Regions from separate parts of the Homo sapiens genome. Here region 2 is linked to region 1. The links come from fine-mapping of genetic effects on gene expression. A gene starts in region 1. The other region holds a variant in brackets. All regions are shown on one strand. Distances are between the middles of the regions.

Region 1 (4,392 bases):
CTATTTGTTATTTTATGTCATTACTGACATAGCTAGATAATTCCTTCATAACTCCAATTTAACCTAATCATGCTTTTTAATTACAGATATTAAGAAAGAATATTTCTCTACAGCAATTTCGTAAGAACTTCCCGAAGCTTAGAGGGAATAGATTAATATTTAACAGATGTAAAATGCATTAACATTGTTTCTGAATTTGTACTTTGTGGAATACTTATCCTGAAAAGTTATCAGTTTCACATCTATTATACGTATTTCAGTTTAAAATATTAAATGTTAGTAAATTATGTTGGAAAGATGCCAATAACGAAAAAAAAACTGTTTGGCATAAACTTTGGGGAACAAATTCTGGATATAATCGCAACTAACCATCCAAGATTACAGAAATCTGTATCTTTATTTAAATTTTCAGAATGAAACACTACACAACCAATTTGTGTAATCTACTTTGAGTCTCAAGATCTACCAGTCTAAAGTCCTCCTAACAACTAATTAAAATCCTCTCCACCATAATTTGAGCCAACAACTCCCAGATAAAATTACCAGACCATTACATTTGCCACCACACTACATTCTGCTCTTCAGTAACTTCTAAAAGTGATGGTAACACCATAGATACACACTCAAGTATTCACTGTCCCACTTTTCTAAGTTGGTTAACTCAAGTCCTTGAAAGTGAACTGATCAATAAATCTAAACTAGCTAAGAGAAGACCTCATTTTAATCAATTTGATTTTTTTTAATCACAAAGATATAGCCATTCAAATCCCCGGCCACAGCAATTTCCAAAATGCCACCATCTCAGAAAGTCTGTTAATTTATCATACAAATCTCCTTGTCCTTTTTAACAACAAAATGCATTGAAAGAAAAAACCCAGCACTAAAGATCTGTGACCTGATTTCACAAATTCTGGTCTATGCACTTTCATCATACCAACACATCATGCCAAGAAAACCTCGTAAGTTTAGCTATTAAACTACAGTCTTAACAGTAAGCATTTGTTGAGAACTTAGTATGGGGCTGCCACTGCTTTCAGTCCACCTATTGTCATCTCATCAATTCTCAACAGGGCTTGAGGTAGATACTGTCGTTACACCCATTTTGCAGATAAGGAAAGCGAAGCACAGAGAAGTATCTGCCCAAGGTCACAAACCAGTGGAGCAGGATTTGACCCAAAGCAGACAGTCGGACTTCACAGCCCGTGCTCTCAACATCCAACTGCTGAAGAGTTAACAATTTACCCTTGACAGCCGCTATAAGCAAAGGTAAATGCTCAACTGCTAGGAAGGGACAGTCAGAACACCGTCCCATATCCAGTATCCATGTCTCTCTGTTTGTTTATGGCCTCTATGACTTTGGCAAAAGAAGTACACACAATCTGATTTTCCGAACACCCAAGCTGGACTTTTCTGAATGTCCGAGCAAACAAATTATGTATCTTTCCAGGAACGGGCAGACAGCGAAAACGAACCTACGCATCGGAGTGGCCCAGGTTATTCACTTTAAGTTATAAATTTGGGAGAGTTAAGAAAGGACCCCAAACTACCCGGCAAATGAACCCTAGGAAATGCCAGGTTTATAATAAGCTAGAGCTTCCCCGGCACGCCGTTCACGCGCTCTCCTCTCTAACGACATAAACAAGGGAGGAGGCTGCATTCTTCCCACTGCACAATGAAGCCTCCGGCCGAAGCGGCAGGAAGAGCGCAGCCCCGTCCCGGACGGCTCCAGCCGGGGGTCGGGGGCAGAGAGCGGAGGCCGAGGCCCGCCGAGCGGCGCGGTGCGGCCCGGGCCTCCGGGCGCCGCGGGGAGGAGGGGGAGGGAGGGCAGGGCCCCGGCAGCTGCCCGCACTCAGCTGACCTCCGCCATGTTGGCCGCACACCCCGGGACCCTCCACAACAAAGGCCGGCACGAGGGCGCGGGGCGCGCCGGGCGCCACCCCCGGCCGGGCCCGCCTCCCGGGCGCGCGGGGGCCGGGCCGCCGCCGAGGCCCTTCCCCCGCCCTCGGCCCGGCCGCGCGGGGCCGACCCCCGCCGCCACCCCGCCGGGCCCGGGGCTCCAGGGGCGGGGGCGAGCCGGCTTGCGAAGGCTGAAGGCAGGGGAGGGGCGGGGGGCGGCGCTCGACCGGGCGGCCCGACTCCGGCCGAGACAAAGGCGCCGCCGCGCCGACTACTGCCCGCGCCCCGGCCGGGCCGCCCTTCCCGCCCTCCGCCATTACCGGGCCTGGGCGCCCGCCTGTCGGAGAGCCCCTCGCCGCCGGCTCCTCCCTCAGGCCGGGCCCCACTTACCTGTGGGCGGAGAGCGCGCCTCGGACCCCGGTCCTGGCACCAACGCGCTCCGTCGCCAACCCCCGCCACCGCGGGCAGCGCCACCGCCTCTTCCCGGCGCCGAGACCGACGGGACACCCTGGGCCGCCGCCGCCTCTCGAGAGCGCGCCCCGCAACGGCCGCCCCGGCTCCCCCCTGGCCGCCGCCGCCGCCGCCGTTTCGCGCGTCCTCGAGCCCGCCGCGCGCCCCCGCTAAATACCACACACTGCGGCGGCGGCCATGAGGAGGCGCGGCCCCGCGCGCTGGGAGCCTGGGGGGGCGGGGCTTTCGCGGGCGCGCAGGCGCACAGGCGTTGGCGCGGCCGGCGGCGGCCTCCGCGGGCGTAGCTGTGCGGGTCTCCAAAGGCGGCAGTAGGTGCGGGGGCTACTCGGCTACCGTTGCTGCGCCCGTGCACCGCGCATTCAACGGATCCTGGCACGTGGCGCTCTGGCCCGCGAGAAGCTAGCGCTTGCCCGTCGGCTCAGGGCAGCTCCTCCCGCGGCGCTTTGTTCCGGGGCCGCGTGACCCCCCCGGCTCCGGCCGGAGGGGTCGCCCAGCGGGATGCGAGCCCCAGGCTGGCCGCCGCCGCGGCCTTGTGCCCTCCCCCTTGTTTTGTCTGCTGATTTAGCCCAGCGCCTCCACGGATCCTTCCCAACTCCACTCAGTCCCAAAGAAAAAGCGGCTGCCCTGCCCGCCGACCGGGACCCCACCCCTAAAGAGAGTCCCAGCCTCTCCCGAGGTTGAGCCGCTCCTCAGCAACAGCGGGACGAGCTTCAAAAGCTTGTTTCAGCTGAAAAGTGGGTAATGGGGAAGCACGCGTTTTCCTGTGTCCATGCTCATCTGGAAAGTCCCTAATTAGGGACTCTGCATTCCACTTCTTGAAATAATAAAAGGAAAACATCACTTGCAATTCTTTGATGGGTGCTATGAGCAGAAGCAAGCATCTGAGACATTTACAAGCCCTAACTGGAATTCCATGTAAGATCTATTAAAATGGTATTCCGTCCGGACGCGGTGGCTCACGCCTGTAATCCCAGCACTTAGGGAGGCCGAGGCCGATGGATTACCTGAGGTCAGGAGTTCGAGAGTAGCCTGGCCAACATGGTGAAACCCTATCTCTACTAAAAATACAAAAATTAGCCGGGCGTGGTGGTGCACGCCTGTAGTCCCAGCTACTCGGAGGCTGAGGCAGGAGAATCGCTTGAACCCGGGAGGCAGAGGTTGCAGTGAGGCAGAGATCAGGCCATTGCACTCCAGCCTGGACAACAGAGCGAGACTCTGTCTCAAAAAAATAAAAATAAAAATAGAAAAATCCCATACCGGGCACGTATGTACAAATTCCCAGTGTATGATAAAGTTTATATGTGCAAAACACTAGTTTACAGTATTCCTAATTACATGATTTAAACTGCAATTTTACTTTCACATTTTTGGGGAGAAGTTATAGCTCCTCAGTACACGGGAAGGTCAATAGAGTTCGGTTCACTTCAGTTTAGAGGTAAATTTTCCATTTTTACAGACTATGTGCTTGGCATAGCCATGTGGCCTTGACCTGGTCGTGAAGGGCAGAGGAGTTCTGTCCTGGGCGAGGAGCAGCTCTGGGGTGAGATGTGTTTCTCGCCCCCAGAACCCCTGGGCCGCTCTGCAAGCAGTGAAATGGATACGGACTAAGAGAGAACTTGCCAACGTGGCGATTAAAGTTCTAAACACCCGGCTTTGCCAAAGTCAGATTTTGTCCTCCTTATCCCGCATCCCTTCCTCTACCCAACAGCATTTGTCCATCTGAAAATAACAGTCTGTCTCTGGCCCACTGCTGACAGTCGAGGACTTACCTTATAAACTAGTGGATTCTCTTAAACTGCAGGGGTGCCCAGGACACAGTGTCCCCTGAGGATGCCGCACACCAGTCTTGAAGTGCTGGATCGTTGACGTCAGGCACCCAGAAGCAACTTCTGCCTCTGGAATTCTCAAACGTGCTTTTCTTGGCTTAGTTTGTGCCTGCTCTCCTCTAGAAGAGTCCAAGTTACTTCTTACTTTCCCCACTTCCCTTTTATACAAAACAAATTTAATCGGGTTAATTCCATCTCT
Region 2 (4,392 bases), 180 kb before region 1:
AAAGTTGGACAACTCCAAGTGTTGGTGATGATCTGAGGCAAAAGGAACTCTCCTTAACTATCAAGAGGATTGTAGATTGGTACAACTACTTTGGAGAACAATTTGACCTATTCAGTAACATGGAAGATTTTTGAAGAATTATGAACCAACGATTCGACTCCTAAAACCCTACCCAAAAAAACTCTCAAACATGTGTGCAAAGGTACACGTAGAAGGATATACACTGAAGTATTTTTTTTTTTTTTTTGTAGAAGTGAAAAATAAGAAACAACTGTTCATCTTGGAGAAATAAATTCTGGTACATTCAGATATTGGAATGCTATACCAAGGAGAATTAAATAAAGTTATAAGGCTGGGTGCAGTGGCTCATGCTTGTAATTCCAGCACTTTGGGAGGCCAAGGTGGACAGATCACGAGGTCAGGAGTTCAAGACCAGCCTGGCCAACACGGTGAAACCTCGTCTGTACTACAAATACAAAAATCAGCCAGGTGTGGTGGCGTGTGCCTGTAGTCCCAGCTACTCGGGAGGCTGAGGCAGAATTGCTTGAACCTGGGAAGTGGAGGCTGCAGTGAGCTGAGATTGTACCATTGCACTCCAGCCTAGGCAACAGAGTCAGACTCTGTCTCAAAAAAATATATATATATATCTATATATATATAAAGTTACAAGTATCAACATGGAAGATCTCAAAAAACATAATGTTGAGGGAAAAAATGAAATTACCAAAGGACACAGAAAGTAAAAAATAAATTCTATAAAGTTTAAAAATATGCAAAAGGAATTTCTTCATGTCTAGAGATTCATGCATACACTGTAGAAGTATGAAGACATGCATGGAAACAATAAACAACAAAGTCAGGAGAGCAGAAAGGGAGAACTGGAACAGAATTGGAGAGTGGAATCAATGTTTTATTGTTTAATCTGGGTGGTAGATACATGGGTTTTTATTAATTATTTTCTAAACCTTGTTTAGGTCTTAAATATTTTATACCAAAAAAAAATAGTAAAGCAAAAATAAGGGGCGAGAGAAAAAGAAACAGAAGAAGAAGGGGGAGAGAAAATAATAAGGCACTGTGGCCAATGCCATAGATGAAAATATTCAAGGGAAAATGACCCAGGAGAAGCACCACCAGAAGCAGTCATTGCACTGCGGTCATCATCGGTAAGAAAACACACTGAGATGGCTCTCAATCTAAGAATGGGAGACTTGGGGAATTCTTTTCTGAGAGATTGGTTTCTTTTTCTTTTCTTTTCTTTTTTATTGATTTTTTTTTTTTTTTTTTTTTTTTTTGAGACAGGGTCTTGTTCTGTTGCCCAGGCTGGAGTGCAGTGGCACTCACAGCTCACTGCAGCCTTGACCTCCGGGGCTCCATCCTCCCACCTTGGCCTCCCCAGTAGCTGGGACCACAGATGCACCACAACACCTGGCTAATTTTTTTAAATTTTTGTAGAGATGGGAGGTCTCTCTACGTTGCCCAGGCTGGTCTTGAACTCCTGGTCTCAAGCAGTCCTCCTGCCTTGGCCTCCCAAAGTGCTGGGATTATAGGCATGAGCCACCGTGCTCGGCCTGTTTTCATTTTTTATAAGTTGAAAAGCAGGGGTCTACTCAAAAAATTTTGAAGATAAAGGAGACCATAAAATTTGTTCTCAATTTTTACCAGCACAAAAATCTTCTACCAGTCTGTTTGCTTTGTGTGGAAAGCAGAGGAAATCCAAGTTTTTTACAGCCCTCCCCAAATGTGGAGGAGTCTAACCTGAGATGAGGACAGCTGCTGGGAGGCTGTTATTGAATCACACTCTGAAATGGCAAAGGCTTGAGGATCTACGTTATCCGTCAATCACAGTCAGAGCCCTGGAAGGGTGCTAACCTGCAGCTGGTGGGTCACCAGGACGACCGTCTTCCCCCTGAGTGTCTTCTTAATGCACTCCTCAAAAATGTGCTTCCCCACGTGGGCGTCCACAGCAGACAGGGGGTCGTCCAGCAGGTAGATCTGACGGTCGGAATAGACGGCGCGGGCCAGGCTGATCCTCTGTTTCTGCCCCCCAGAGAGGTTGAGGCCCCGCTCTCCAATCTGCAGACAGGCAGTAAAAGGCACCATGTCCAGACAGCAAGCACAGCCAGGTGTGCTCAAATGGGTAGGCAGATGTAGCAGACAGAACCCCCTCAGTACAGACCAAGATATGCACACACTCCAGGATACCTGATAATTTGGCATTCTGGACTTAAAAATAC[A/G]TATATATCTCACTCATATGTGGGAGCTTAAAAGCTGATCTCGTGGAGGTAGAGAGTAGAATGATGGACACCAGAGGCTGGAAAGGATTTTTGGGGGTAGGGAAGGGAGGTGAGAATGAAGAGAGGTTGGCTGATGGATACAAACATCAAGTTAGATAGAAAGAATAAGTTCTAATGTTTGATAGCAGAATAGGATGACTATAGCTAACAACAATGTATTGTATATTTCAGCAGAGCTAGTAGATAGGATTGAAAAGTTCTCAGCACAATAGAAATGATAAATACCCTAAATGCCCTGACCTGATCATTACATATTCTACAGATATAACAAAATAGCACAGGTACCCAAAAAACATGTACAAATATTATGCATCAATAAAAATATTTTTCAAAACGTGGTTAGTAGGGGATGAATAAATTGCTTCTCAATTAATTAAAAATCTTACAACTCTCCATGTATCCCCTGAATCTAAATTTAAAGATATATGACTTTTAAAAAATTGTAACTCTTACTTAGATACAATTTTTCTAAACCTATCAACTTCTAGGAGGCAAACATTAAACTATTAAAAATTCAGATAATAAAATAAGTCACTTATTCCCAAGTCAGAGCACTGTCTCACATATTATTCTGGTTTTATTTATTTGGTTTTTTGAGACAGGGTCTCCTCTGTTGCCCAGGCTGGAGTGCAGTGGCACCAGCAATCATGGCTTACTGCGACCTCCGCCTCTCAGTCTCAAGCGATTCTCCCATCTCAGCCTCCTGAGTAGCTGGGACTACAGGCGGTGCCATCACACTTAGCCAATGTTTTTAAACCTTTTTTTTTCTTTTTCTTTTTTTTTTTTTTTTTTGTAGAGATGAGGTCTCACTATATTGCCTAGGCTGGTCTCAAACTCCTGGGCTCAAGCAATTTCTCCCACCTTGGCCTCCCAAGGTGCTGGGGTTACACTGGACCTGGCCTTATTCAGGTTTTTAATCTCCATTGACAGCACCTGTCAACTTGTGGGACCATTGGCCTGGGTTACAGGTGTCGTCAAAGACTATTTGCACTGTGTGCACCCACTCAACAGACCAGAGCTACAATGGCTGCAAGGAGCTTTACTGACGCTGGAAGGACCATCTCACACGGCACCTGCTGTGATAGGAGTTGAGGGTGGAAACCCAAGTTACTGAGCATGTTTTGCAGATTAGCACTCCAGGCAGCTGCCAGCTGGCCCATCCCTCCTTGAGGCTCTGAGGAAGTGGGAGCTGGAGTGTAAGTCCTAGTTCCTGTTCTATCCTGACTGCTTGAAGTCTCTGTAGAGAAGAATCAGAGTTGAAATGGTGGCAGAGAAAACTCCTGTCCCTGCCGTGCTTCCAGGTCACCACTGTGTGACCTTGGACAACCTGCTTGATCTGGCCAAAGCCCAGTTTCCCCATTCATTCATTTACTTATTCATCAAACACTATTCAATGCCTACTGTGCTCTTACAATAATAGTTAACACTTACTCTAGGCCGGGCACTAGTCAAAACACTTTGTATTAACTCATTTAAACCTCAAAGCAATCCGATCAGGTCAGTACTCTTATTTATGCCATTTTACAGATGAGACCTTGTTCTTCCTATTGAAGAAACAACCTTGAATAAGATCATTGAGCTCTCTGCCATCAAGGATTTATAGTCCCAGCTTTAAAAGAAGAAGAATAGGCCAAGCGCAGTAGCTCATGCCTGTAATCGCAGCACTTTGGAAGGCCGAGCTGGGTGGATCACATGAGGCCAGGAGTTTGAGACTAGCTTGGCTAACATGACGAAACCCTGTCTCCACTAAAAATGCAAAAATTAGCCGGGCCTGGAGGTGCATGCCTGTAATCCCAGCTACTCAGGAGGCTGAGGTAGGAGAATCTCTTGAATCTGGGAGGTGGAGGTTGCAGTGAGTCGAGATCGCACCACTGCACTCCAGCCTGGGTGACAGACAGAGAACAAGACTCCCCTTCAAAAAAAAAAAAAAGAAGAAGAAGAATTAAGAGACTACCCTCCTGAGGTTATTGAGATTATCGTGACTCTCACCTAAGACACTACATTCAAGTCACTAGAATAGCACCTTGCATGTAGTAAGTGTTCAACAGACTGAGATATTATTAGACCATTAATATCAAGAAGGCAATGCCACTTTTAT

What was found. PIP is the estimated chance that this variant, and not a neighbour inherited with it, causes the effect. A credible set is the group of variants that fine-mapping cannot tell apart.
Region 2: its variant is the best candidate, but not a certain one, in a credible set for the expression of SIAH1 in whole blood (INTERVAL, PIP 0.64).

Annotation. Positions count from the first base shown.
Region 1 is chr16:48,382,918-48,387,309 of GRCh38, forward strand. It overlaps SIAH1 (siah E3 ubiquitin protein ligase 1), which reads right to left and starts at 2,496. Exons shown (of 2, transcript NM_003031.4): 1 at 2,287-2,496. RefSeq lists silencers at 1,575-1,844, 1,935-2,004, 2,105-2,924.
Region 2 is chr16:48,198,407-48,202,798 of GRCh38, forward strand. ABCC11 (ATP binding cassette subfamily C member 11) reads right to left here. Exons shown (of 30, transcript NM_001370497.1): 15 at 1,870-2,073. Among named protein-coding and RNA genes, the nearest start is that of LONP2, 44 kb to the right of the region's middle. The variant A/G (reference allele first, on the strand shown) is at 2,235.